Linked DNA regions of Homo sapiens: region 2 is linked to region 1. Evidence: fine-mapped expression QTL. A gene starts in region 1. The other region holds a variant in brackets. All regions are shown on one strand. Distances are from middle to middle. Region 1 holds the start of ZNF223 (zinc finger protein 223). Region 2 overlaps ZNF284 (zinc finger protein 284).

What was found.
Region 2: its variant is fine-mapped to the expression of ZNF223 in whole blood (TOPMed, PIP above 0.99).

Annotation. Positions count from the first base shown.
Region 1 is chr19:44,048,811-44,054,212 of GRCh38, reverse strand. It overlaps ZNF223 (zinc finger protein 223), which reads right to left and starts at 2,177. Exons shown (of 5, transcript NM_013361.6): 1 at 2,018-2,177. RefSeq lists enhancers at 1,951-2,190, 2,010-2,511 and a silencer at 2,231-2,290.
Region 2 is chr19:44,081,439-44,086,806 of GRCh38, reverse strand. ZNF284 (zinc finger protein 284) reads right to left here. Exons shown (of 5, transcript NM_001037813.4): 4 at 4,702-4,794; 5 at 1-1,093. It also overlaps the pseudogene RNU6-902P. Among named protein-coding and RNA genes, the nearest start is that of ZNF224, 10 kb to the left of the region's middle. The variant T/C (reference allele first, on the strand shown) is at 1,944.

The sequences.
Region 1 (5,402 bases):
TGACAAGAGCAAAACTGTCTCAAACAAAAAAAAAAAAAAAGAAAAGGGCATCTTAACACTCCTGTGGAATCCCCACCAACAATGTATAATCTAAACCTAAATGTGAAATATATCTGTAGGGGAAAGAAAAAGAGATCAGGCTGTTACTGTGTCTACGTAGAAAAAGGAAGACATGAGAAACTCCATTTTGATCTGTACTAAGAAAAATTCTTCTGCCTTGAGATGCTGTTAATCTGTAACCCTAGCCCCAACCCTGTGCTCGCAGAAACATGTGTTGTATTGACTCAAGGTTTAATGGATTTAGGGCTGTGCAGGATGTGCTTTGGTAAAAATGTGTTTGCAGGCAGTATGCTTGGTAAAAGTCATTGCCATTCTCCAGTCTCGATTAACCAGGGACACCATACACTGCGGAAGGCCACAGGGACCTCTGCCCAAGAAAGCCTGGGCATTGTCCAAGGTTTCCACCCACTGAGACAGCCTGAGAGATGGCCTCGTGGGAAGGGAAAGACCTGACCGTCCCCCAGCCCGACACCCATAAGGGGTCTGTGCTGAGGAGGATTAGTGAAAGAGGAAGGCCTCTTTGCAGTTGAGGTAAGAGGAAGGCATCTGTCTCCTGCTCATCCCTGGGAATGGAATGTCTCGGTATAAAACCCAATCGTACATTCTATTTACTGAGATAGGAGAAAACCGCCTTATGGCTGGAGGTGAGACATACTGGCGGCAATACTGGTCTTTACTGCACTGAGATGTTTGTGTAAAGTCACACATAAATCTGGCCTATGTGCACATCCAGGCACAACTCCTTTCCTTAAACTTATTTATGACAGAGTCCTTTGCTCACATGTTTTCCGGCTGACCCTCTCCCCACCATTACCCTATAGTCCTTCCACATCCCCCTCACCAAGATAGTAGAGATAGTGATCAATAAATACTGAGGGAACTCAGAGACCAGTGCCGGTACAGGTCCTCATTTGCTGAGCGCCGGTCCCCTGGGCCCACTTTTCTTCCTCTATACTTTGTGTCTGTGTCTTATTTCTTTTCTCAGTTTCTCATTTCCACCTTGTGAGAAACACCCACAGGTGTGGAGAGGCAGGCCCCCTTCAATATCAAACTCCAAATGAACAACTATGGAAATGTGACAGCTAAAGACAACGCATAAACTGGACTTTGAATAGGTGAAGGGTGGGGCAGAGGACAGTCATAAGGACTTTAAATGAAAAATTTAACAAATTCGTATATGGAACTGCAGATTAGATAACATGATGCTAGGTAATATGCTATCCAACACTATCTAGTAAGTACACTACAAATACTAGTATTCTTTTAACACATCTATCTGACATGTAATCGGTAACAGTATTATTTAACATAATATCCAATATTATCTACCATGTTATGTGAAACCCTATAACCAGCCCTTCCTAAATGCCTCTTACCAAGACACCCCACAATTACCGTGGTATGTGGGCTTCCTTGCTGCAGAAAGCTACCAATCAGCTGTCTCTGGTTACAGGTATGTTCCTGGTGGTATTTGGTTGATGGTCATCAACAAAGCAAACAGGAAAAATGTAAACACTTGGCAAATTTGGGTAAAGGGTATATGAGAATTTCTTATACTGTTTTTGCAATTTTTCTATAGCTTTGAAATGATATCAAACGTTTTAAAATATCAGGCAACAAGAGACCACTCACCAAGTGACAGGGACAACTTTAAGGCTTTCATTTGTATTATCTCTTTCAATTCGCAAAACAATTCTATTAGGATGACCCTATAAGCACCATTTTAAAGAACAGCAATGGGAAGTACAGAGACATTAACATTCCACATCACACTGCGAGAAAGAGTGTACACACTGCATACGTAGGGAGGCGGACTGAGCGAGGTCAAAGTCCTGGAAACCCTCAGAGCAGGGCACACAAGGCCACCCCAATCCCACCCCCCGGGAGGCGAGCAAAGCCCCCCGACGCCAGAAGGCTCCGCTGACGGGAACAATAAACACCCTCCCCGCCCTCGCACCTCTAAACCTCTGCTCTTCGCCAAGGCTTCTTTTCCCCTGAGACGATCATCGATCATCGGGTGGTTGCGAGCCTCAAGCAAAGGGGGTTCGTTCAAAATGTCCTGCAAGACGCAGAAATGGCTCAAACTACCCCGGTCATTAAAGCAGGAACCTCAGACTAGGAGACCGGAAGTGTCCTCTCTGCGCCAGAGTGTCTGGACTCCACTCCCCAGAATTCCCCGGACCCGCCCCCCTGAGCCAAAGGGCCCGGGACTCCGCAGAGTGTCTGGACTATCGTTCCCAGAATTCAACGGTTCACCTGCCAGAGCCAAAATACCCAGTGTTCCACGAGCCAGTGGACTACACTTCCCGTAAAATGGACTACTCTTCCCAGAATTCTCCGGAAACGCCTACCTGAGCTGAAGTATCAGGAATCCCGCAAGGTGTCTGGACTGCAGAGCCTCAGATGCAAAAGGAAAATGTCCATCACCTCACCCTTTAGGCTCAAGTGTTGCGACTACATGGTGCTCCTCGATTACACTTCCCGCAACACCCACGGGGAACGAATTTCATAGCCCCAGGTTCCTGGTGGGGAATGCAGACTGTTACCCTGACAGTTGTCCTTCCCAGAGTCCTCGAGCGAAAATATTGAATAGAAAGAATTTATGAAGTCTAAATGTCTCCCATGATTGACAGGAGTGTTCTTGGACAGGGAACAAGCGAGGAGATACAATATTCAAGGAGCTAGATAGAGTGACTGTTGAGCCGTCAGATGGCTGAAAGGAGGCTCAGGGTTTAAAGCAAGGATATCCAACTCCAGGGCCACAGACCTGTACCGGTCCACTGACTGTTAGGAACCGGGCGGCACAGCAGGAAGTGAGCGGCAGGTGAGGGAGCATTATGGCCTGAGCTCCACCTCCTGTGAGATCAGCCCAGCATTACATTCTCATAGGAGCGCGGATCCTATTGTGAACTGTGCGTGCGAAGGATCTAGGTCAGGCGCTCCTTATGAGAATCTAATGGCTGAGGTGGAACAGTTTCATCCCGAAACCATTCCCCAGTCCGTGGAAAAATTGTCTTCCACAAAACCGGTCCATGGTGCTAAAACGGTTGGGGACCACTGGTTTAAAGAATGAGCCAGGTAGAATGGGTTGGGAGGGGCAATGAGAAGCCAGGAAAGCATCAGCCCCTGTAACTGAAAAGTAGATCAGTGGCTTCCCGTTTGCAACGTCCAGTTAACAAGAGGGAGATCTGGTATAAAGAAAGTGATTTATTCTAGAGCTAGCGTAGGGGAAGTAGCACAGGTGTTGTCTTTAAGTGCACGGCTTGGCTTTTAGAGCAGAAAGCAGGCACTTTTAAAAGGTAGGGGAGGAAGAGGGAAGGGGTCTGTGTGCTGGCTTGGTGCCTTATCTATTAGGCAGTTGAGCTGGCTTTTTCATGGGCAGAAATAAGTTGTAACCAGAAGGGAGAGAGTAGCAGGCACGCTTTCAACTGTTGTCTCTTCAGGCAACCTCCTGGTGAGTGAGAGTTCAGAGGCCAGCATGCTTTAGTTTGTAAATTGACTGTTAATTCTGGAGGAGAGTTCTGGCTTGGAGCACACAGTTAGATGAACTTTCCCTGTAGGAAGTGTCTGGTGAAGGGGAGGTAAAAGTCTATATTTGCATTTTTAAAGGGCTACATAGGAAGTGGGGAACTAAGGGAATGAGAAAAGAGAGAGAAATAAATAAGCTGTCTCTTAGAAAAATGGTGGTTCTCAGTTACAGCCCTAGTCCAGATGCTGTGGTACCACTGGTTTGACAGGAAAAACAAAATTCCAGCCACCAATGGAGAAGCTGTGTCCTCATGGAAAAGCTACATTTAACATTCTCATGGTAGTAATATTTCTACTTTAGATGTAGAAACGCTAAATTTCAGAGAAGTTAGTGAATTGCTAAGTATCTTAAAGCAAGTATAACTGTTGAAGAGCTTGGCATTGGTATCAATCTGACACCCAATGTCTGATTCAATGCCATAAAACTGGAGAAGATTCTATAGGTGACGGAGCATGATTTATTATTAAGAGTTTCTTCCTTTCCATTTCTTGGTTAAAATATCTTCATTATAGGAAACAATTTGAAAACTGGCATATGTTAGTTGAAAGACATTAATAATAGTATAAAGCTAAATCAGGAAACAATTCATCTAAAATTCTCTTTTGAAGATAAACCATATTTTTTGTCCTCCCAAATAAACATACATTGACCTGTCGACCTATATTTTTCTTTTTAAAAAGAGTCTAATGTCCTGTATCCATTTTCCTAAAGTAAAAAAAAATAAAAAAAAATTAAAAAAAGACTGTTCACAATTTTTTTTTGATACAGAGTCTTGCTGTTTTGCCCAGGCCAGAGTGCAGTGCGCGATCTCGGCTCACTGCAACCTCTGCTTCCTGGGTTCAAGTGATTCTCCTGCCTCAGCCTCCCAAGTAGCTGGGACTACAGGCATGTGCCACTACGCCTGGCTAATTTTTTGTATTTTTAGTAGAGATGGGGGTTTCACTGTGTTAGCCAGGATGGTCTCAATCTCCTGACCTCGTGATCTGCCCACCTTGGCCTCCCAAAGTGCTGGGATTACAGGTGTGAGCCACTGCACCTGGCTGACGTTTCACAGTTTGGTTTGGACAAAAATTAAGGTGACTGAGCAACCACATAGTGCCAAACAAATTTTCAATGCCCCCTTGAAAATTGAGTGATGGCTATTCCTATACCAATTACAGCTGTATCCTTACTCTACTCTGCATTCACAAAAGATAAAATTTATTGATACTCTCAGTGGTAGTGTATGCAAGGAGCTGAGCCTGAGATGTTAGGCGGCACCTGGCATCAAAGGTCCCTGCTGTTGCCCACGTCCCTGTGCTCTGGGCCTCTGATGGGAGGAGCAGCCTCCAAGATCTGTGAAATACTTCTGGGGTCATTCTTCCATTGTCTTGGACAATAGGTCCTGGTTTGAGTCAACATGGTCAATCCATACTAATCTCATAAATCAGTTGTTCAGCCACACCCTTGTTTTCTCCAGGACAGGGTTTTGCATGTTTTCCAAAGTAGATAAGCTGCAAATTTTAAAAGTATTTAGTTCTCTTTACCTTTTAATTAGTAATTCCGGCTTTCAGTCACTTCTCACTTTCTACATTTTACTATAGGTAGTCAAGATTATTCAAGATGCAACTTCAACACATTGTTAAGAAATAGTGTCAGCTAAATATTCAATTACATTGCTCACAAGTTCTACCTACCAAAAAACACTAGGACCTGAATATAATTCAGCCAAATTATTTACCCCTTTATAACAAGAACCCCGCTTTCTTCAGTTTCCAGTAACATGTTCCACATTTCTGACTGAGGTCTCATCATAATGGCCTTTACTGTCCAT
Region 2 (5,368 bases), 33 kb before region 1:
TCAAGATTAAACTTACTAATGTAGCCCTTCCCACACTTCTGACATTTATACAGTTCTTCTTCTCTATAGGCTCTCTGATGTGAATGGCCCTGTGAATTCATATAAAATCTCTTCCCACATCCGTCGCACTTGAATGTTGTTTCTCCATTGTGGACCCGCTGATGTCTTGAAAGACATGAGGACCACCTGAAGCCCTTCCCACATACATTACAATTATATGGTTTGTCTCCTGTATGGTCCATCTGATGCTTACAAAGATCTTGCCTACAAGTGAAGCTCCTTCCACATTCTTCACATTTGTATAGTTTCTCTTTTGTGTGGTCCATGCAATGACTATTAAGTGCTGATCTCTGACCAAAGCTATTACTACAGGTATCACATCTAAATGATTTCTCTTGCATGTGGACCATGGAATGCCTATTAAGATTTGATCTACTATGGAAGCTCTTACCACATATATAACATTTGAATGGCTTCTCCCCAGTATGGATTCTTTGATGTTCCCGAAGCTGGGAATTGTGAATGAAGGCCTTCCCACATTCCTCACAAATATGAGGTTTTTCTCCTGTGTGTAATTTGCAATGAACATACATTCCTGATCTACGGCTGAAACTTTTCCCACACTGCTCACATTTGAATGGTTTCTCTCCAGTGTGGATTCTCTGATGAGTTTGCAGTTGTGAGTTCTGACTAAATGCCTTACTACACACATCACACTTATAGCGTTTCTCTCCCATGTGAACTTTCTGATGAAGACAAAGAGCTGAGCTATAACAGAATCTCTTCCTGTACTCATTACATGTATGGGATATCTTTCCTGAGTGTAATTGTTGATGAAGATCAAGGATGGAGACATCACTGAAGAATTTTTTACACTTCCCATGCTCAGAAGGTGTCTCTCCTATGTGAATTATAGATAGTCCTGCGTCAACCTGGGAGGGGACATCACCTTGTGTGGAGAACTGAGAGCTACTTATGGAGTCTTGAGGTCTAGTTAACTCACTTGCAGTTTGTTCCCAGATTTGCTGGCAAGACCACTCTTCATGTGGTCCTGTTTCTGGAACAGACTCCAACTCAGTTTGGATCTTGCCTCCTATAAGGACACAGAATTAAGAGATGTGGGTAAGTGAAACCTTTGTTCAGTGTTTTCAGGATTTCACTTAGGACATGGCCTGAAACTTTACTGAATACAAGGAAGGTACAGTTTGTGTTTTCCAAGTGCACCACGGTCTCTCGTTGTCACGAAACCAATTTTGAATGACATAATGTCTCATACGTGGTAGAAATGAAAGACTTAATTTAAAATATTAATATAATACAGTTAATGTGTTACTATTTCTACCAATTTCCTAGTTAGTCTAAAATCTTGCATGGTATATTATGTAACTACTAAATTATATATGTGATGAATCAGAAGGAACGTTAAGGGTAGGAGGACTTCAAGATGGCTGACTAAAGACACCCAGAGCTTGCGTCCTCCACAAAGAGCCAAAATAATGAGTAGTGCTCACTTCAGCAGCACATATGGTAAAACTGGAATGATCAGCCCCTGCACAAGGCCGATATGCAAATTCATGAAGTGTTCTATATATTTTATTACTAAAAAATTTAAAAAGCAAATAGATACTCATACATCAAATAGCATCTAAGAGGGATCACTGGAATTCAGCAGAGAAGTGACAGGAAACACCCGAAGCACAAAAGGAGAGCGAAGGGAGGTAGCCCTTCTGGCCGTGATCACCTGAAAGCCGGGAAAGGCTCCTAGTGCTGGGAAAGGGTAAGTGAGAGAGCCCTAGTGGTTTACATTTCCGCTGTGCACTCCAGCAATCAGCCATGAGAGAGGCCCTCGACCCCTGTGGGCCCTGAGACTAGCACAGGGGGCTACCTGGAGTCCATGCAATGGCACTCAGAGAGGGTACTCATGATGGGACCCACACACTTCC[T/C]GAGACTCAAGCAGCTATGGCACAGCGCTATTTTGAGAGCTGCACCCCCACCAGACTGCATCTTGCCCTGGGGCCCAACAGCCTTTGCATCTCCAAATCCCTGAAGCCCCATGGACATGCCCCCACATCCACCCAGAGGGTTACAATAATGCCTGTTAGACCCAGCAGTATGGCAGAGTCCCCAGCAATCTAGGCCACATAGTGTCCCATACTCTAGGGAATGGGCCGTGAAGGACACCAGGGAGGCTGCCCCCAGTACAGTACAAAGGGACCCAAAGTGTGTGCACTCACCAGAGCTTGAAAGCTGCCTGTCTGGGGCTGCTGCCTCTAACGGCAATGCTACCTCACCCCCAGCAGCAGGGCCACTGTACACTCATATGTGTTCTCATTCTGAGGAAAGTTTCTCTGCACACTCTGCCACTGCCACCCAAGCACACCTCCTAAAGGCATGGGGAGTCCCTTGCACTGCCCACCACAACCTGTGCCCGTGCACAGGACAAGCCCACTTCACTTGGTACCGCCCATCTCAGTGCCAGAGCATGACACAGAGGGACCTGGGGATTGCTCTACCCTGTGTTGCCTCAGGCACATGTGTGCACAAACAGGAGACCTGACAAAGACCCAGCTTGTGTGCTGCCAGTGCTGGAGCATGCCATCTGGGGACCTAGGGATCACGCCGCCTCTTCCACCACAGCCTACATCTGCCTGCACCACTGAAAGGCCTGAGGACAGGCTCACCTGGCCTGGCGTCATTCCTCCACTACCTAAGCATACCACCTGGGGCTGTTGAGATCACCCTGCCATGTTGGTTGCCCCAGGCATGAGCATGTACCATGCAGGGAGCTTTACAACAGACCCAGAACCCTGCCGCAGGTGCCCAAGCATGCTGTCTGGAGACCTAAGGATTTCCCTGCCCTGATCACCACCACTGGCATCTGTATACTCCTCCTAGTGACCTGAGGACAGGTCCTACAAGCCTGCTGCCACCATCACCGCTGACACTCACCTGCACACACCATGTGGGGGCCTCAGGACTGGCCCACCCAGCCCATCACCACTACCTCTAACACCGGTACACATAGCCTTAAAACCTGAGGGTTATCCTGCCACCACTATTGGGTACTATGCTCAGTACCTGGGTGACAGGATCATTTGCAATGCAAACCTCAGCATCACACAATATACCCAGGTAACAAACCTGCACATGTACCCCCTGAATCTTAAAATAAAAATTGAACAGCTAAAAGTCCTCCTCTTAAGACATTCCATTCCAGTGGGTAGAGATGACAGCTAAATAGAAATATATAAGACACAGTATAAGACAACACCAGAAGGGTAAAGATAGGATGGTATTCCATTCCCTCTCTCTCTCTCTCTCTCTCTCTCTCTATATATATATATATATATATATATTTCTTTATTTATTTTTTGAGACAGAGTCTCATTCTGTCACCCAGGCTAGAGTGTAGTGGCACAATCCCAGCTCACTACAACCTCTGGCTCCTGGGTTCAAGTGATTCTCACGCCTCAGCCACCCGAGTAGCTGGGATTACAGGACTGTGCTACCACACCCAGCTAATTTTTATATTTTTAGTAGAGTCAGGTTTTGCCATGCTGGCCAGGCTGGTCTCAAACTCCTGGCCTCATGCTATCTGCCTGCCTCAGCCTCCCAAAGTGCTGGGATTACAGGCATGAGCCACCACGCCCGGCTGGTATTTTAAATAGAGTGGTCAGAGAAGGCCTTTCTCATGATATTAAAACTGAACAGAGACCAGAATAAAGGAAGGGTCAGAAGGTCTTGAGGTGAAAGAGTATTCCAATCAGAAAGAAGAGCATATATAAACTCTAAGACAGAAGCTTCTGTAGTAGACAGAACAATGGTCCTTGAAAGATGTCCACATCCAATTCCCAGGACCTATGAACCTGTTATGTTATATAGCAAGAGATATTAAGGCTGCAGATGCAATTAAGGTCACTAGTCAGCTAAAGAGAGAGTAAGAAGGTCATTCTAGATTATGCAGGAGTGACCAATCCAATCGCAAGGGACCCAAAATGTGGAAAACAGAGGCTTAAGAAGGGTGGCAGATGACTATGGAAGAATGGTTAGAGATGCAATGTAGCTGCTTTTGAAGATGGAGGAAGGGAGACAAGAGCCAAGGAGTGTGGACAGTGCCTAGGGATTGGTAAATTAAAGTGAAGGCTTCTCCCCAAGAACATCTAGACAGGAACAAAGCCCTAGGGACACCCTGATTTTTGTCCAGTGAGATGTGTCAGACTTCAGATCTGAAGAACAGAAAGATAATTGTTTGTTGTTTAATCTGCTAAGTGTGTGGTCACTGGGTGACAGCAACAGGCAATACAGTGTCCTTGGCAGGATGGAGAAACAGCAGGGAGTACAACGTGGCTGGAAAATGGAGATGTAGTCAGAGAGGCAGTAGGGGATGAAGAGCAGATCAAGGGTCTCTAAAAGGCACTTAAAGCAGTTGTAACATTAACACAAATAAGAAGCCATAAAGGCTTTTAAGCTGAGGAATGGCAATCTGACTTACATTCCCTAAGGATCACTTTGGCTGCTATGAGGAAAACAGATGTCAGGGTGGGAAGAGGGGGTGGGGGAGCAGGACAACCAGCAGGAAGGAGGTAAGAATCCAGGAAACAGGTTTGGCCATTTATACCAGGGCAATGGAGTTGGGCAATGGACAGAAGTAAAACAGATGGAAGGGTCACGTACAAGGATGCATCGTTGCTTGGTTCTTACCTGAATTCCCTTCTCTTTGGGTTGCTGTCTCCATGATCCAAAACTTTTCTTCTCTTTGGAAGTGAAAAGTATCTCGGTGGGAAAGTTGATGCCCTGTGAACAAAGTCACATGCTTAATCCCAATACATCTTAGGTAAAATTTACTAGAAATTTAGGTTCTCACTGCACACTCGAACTTGAACACTGATATGGTTTGGCGGTGTCCCCAAATCTCATCTTGAATTGTAGTTCCCATAATCCCCACATGTCATAAGAGGGAGCTGGTGGGAGGTAATTAAATCATGGGGGCAGTTTCCTCCATGCTGTTCTCGTGATAGTGGATGAGTTCTCACGAGATCTGATGGTTTTATTTTATTTATGTTTTTTGTTTTTGTTTTTGTTTTTGTTTTTTTTTGAGACGGAGTCTCGCTCTGTCGCCCAGGCTGGAGTGCAGTGATGCGATCTCGGCTCACTGCAAGCTCCGCCTCCCAGGTTCACGCCATTTACCCGCCTCAGCCTCCTGAGTAGCTGGGACTACAGACGCCCGCCACCACGCCCGGCAATTTTTTTTGTATTTTTAGTAGAGACGGGGTTTCACCGTGTTAGCCAGAATGGTCTCCATCTCCCAACCTCGTGATCTGCCCTCCTTGGCCTCCCAAAGTGCTGGGATTACAGGCATGAGCCACCG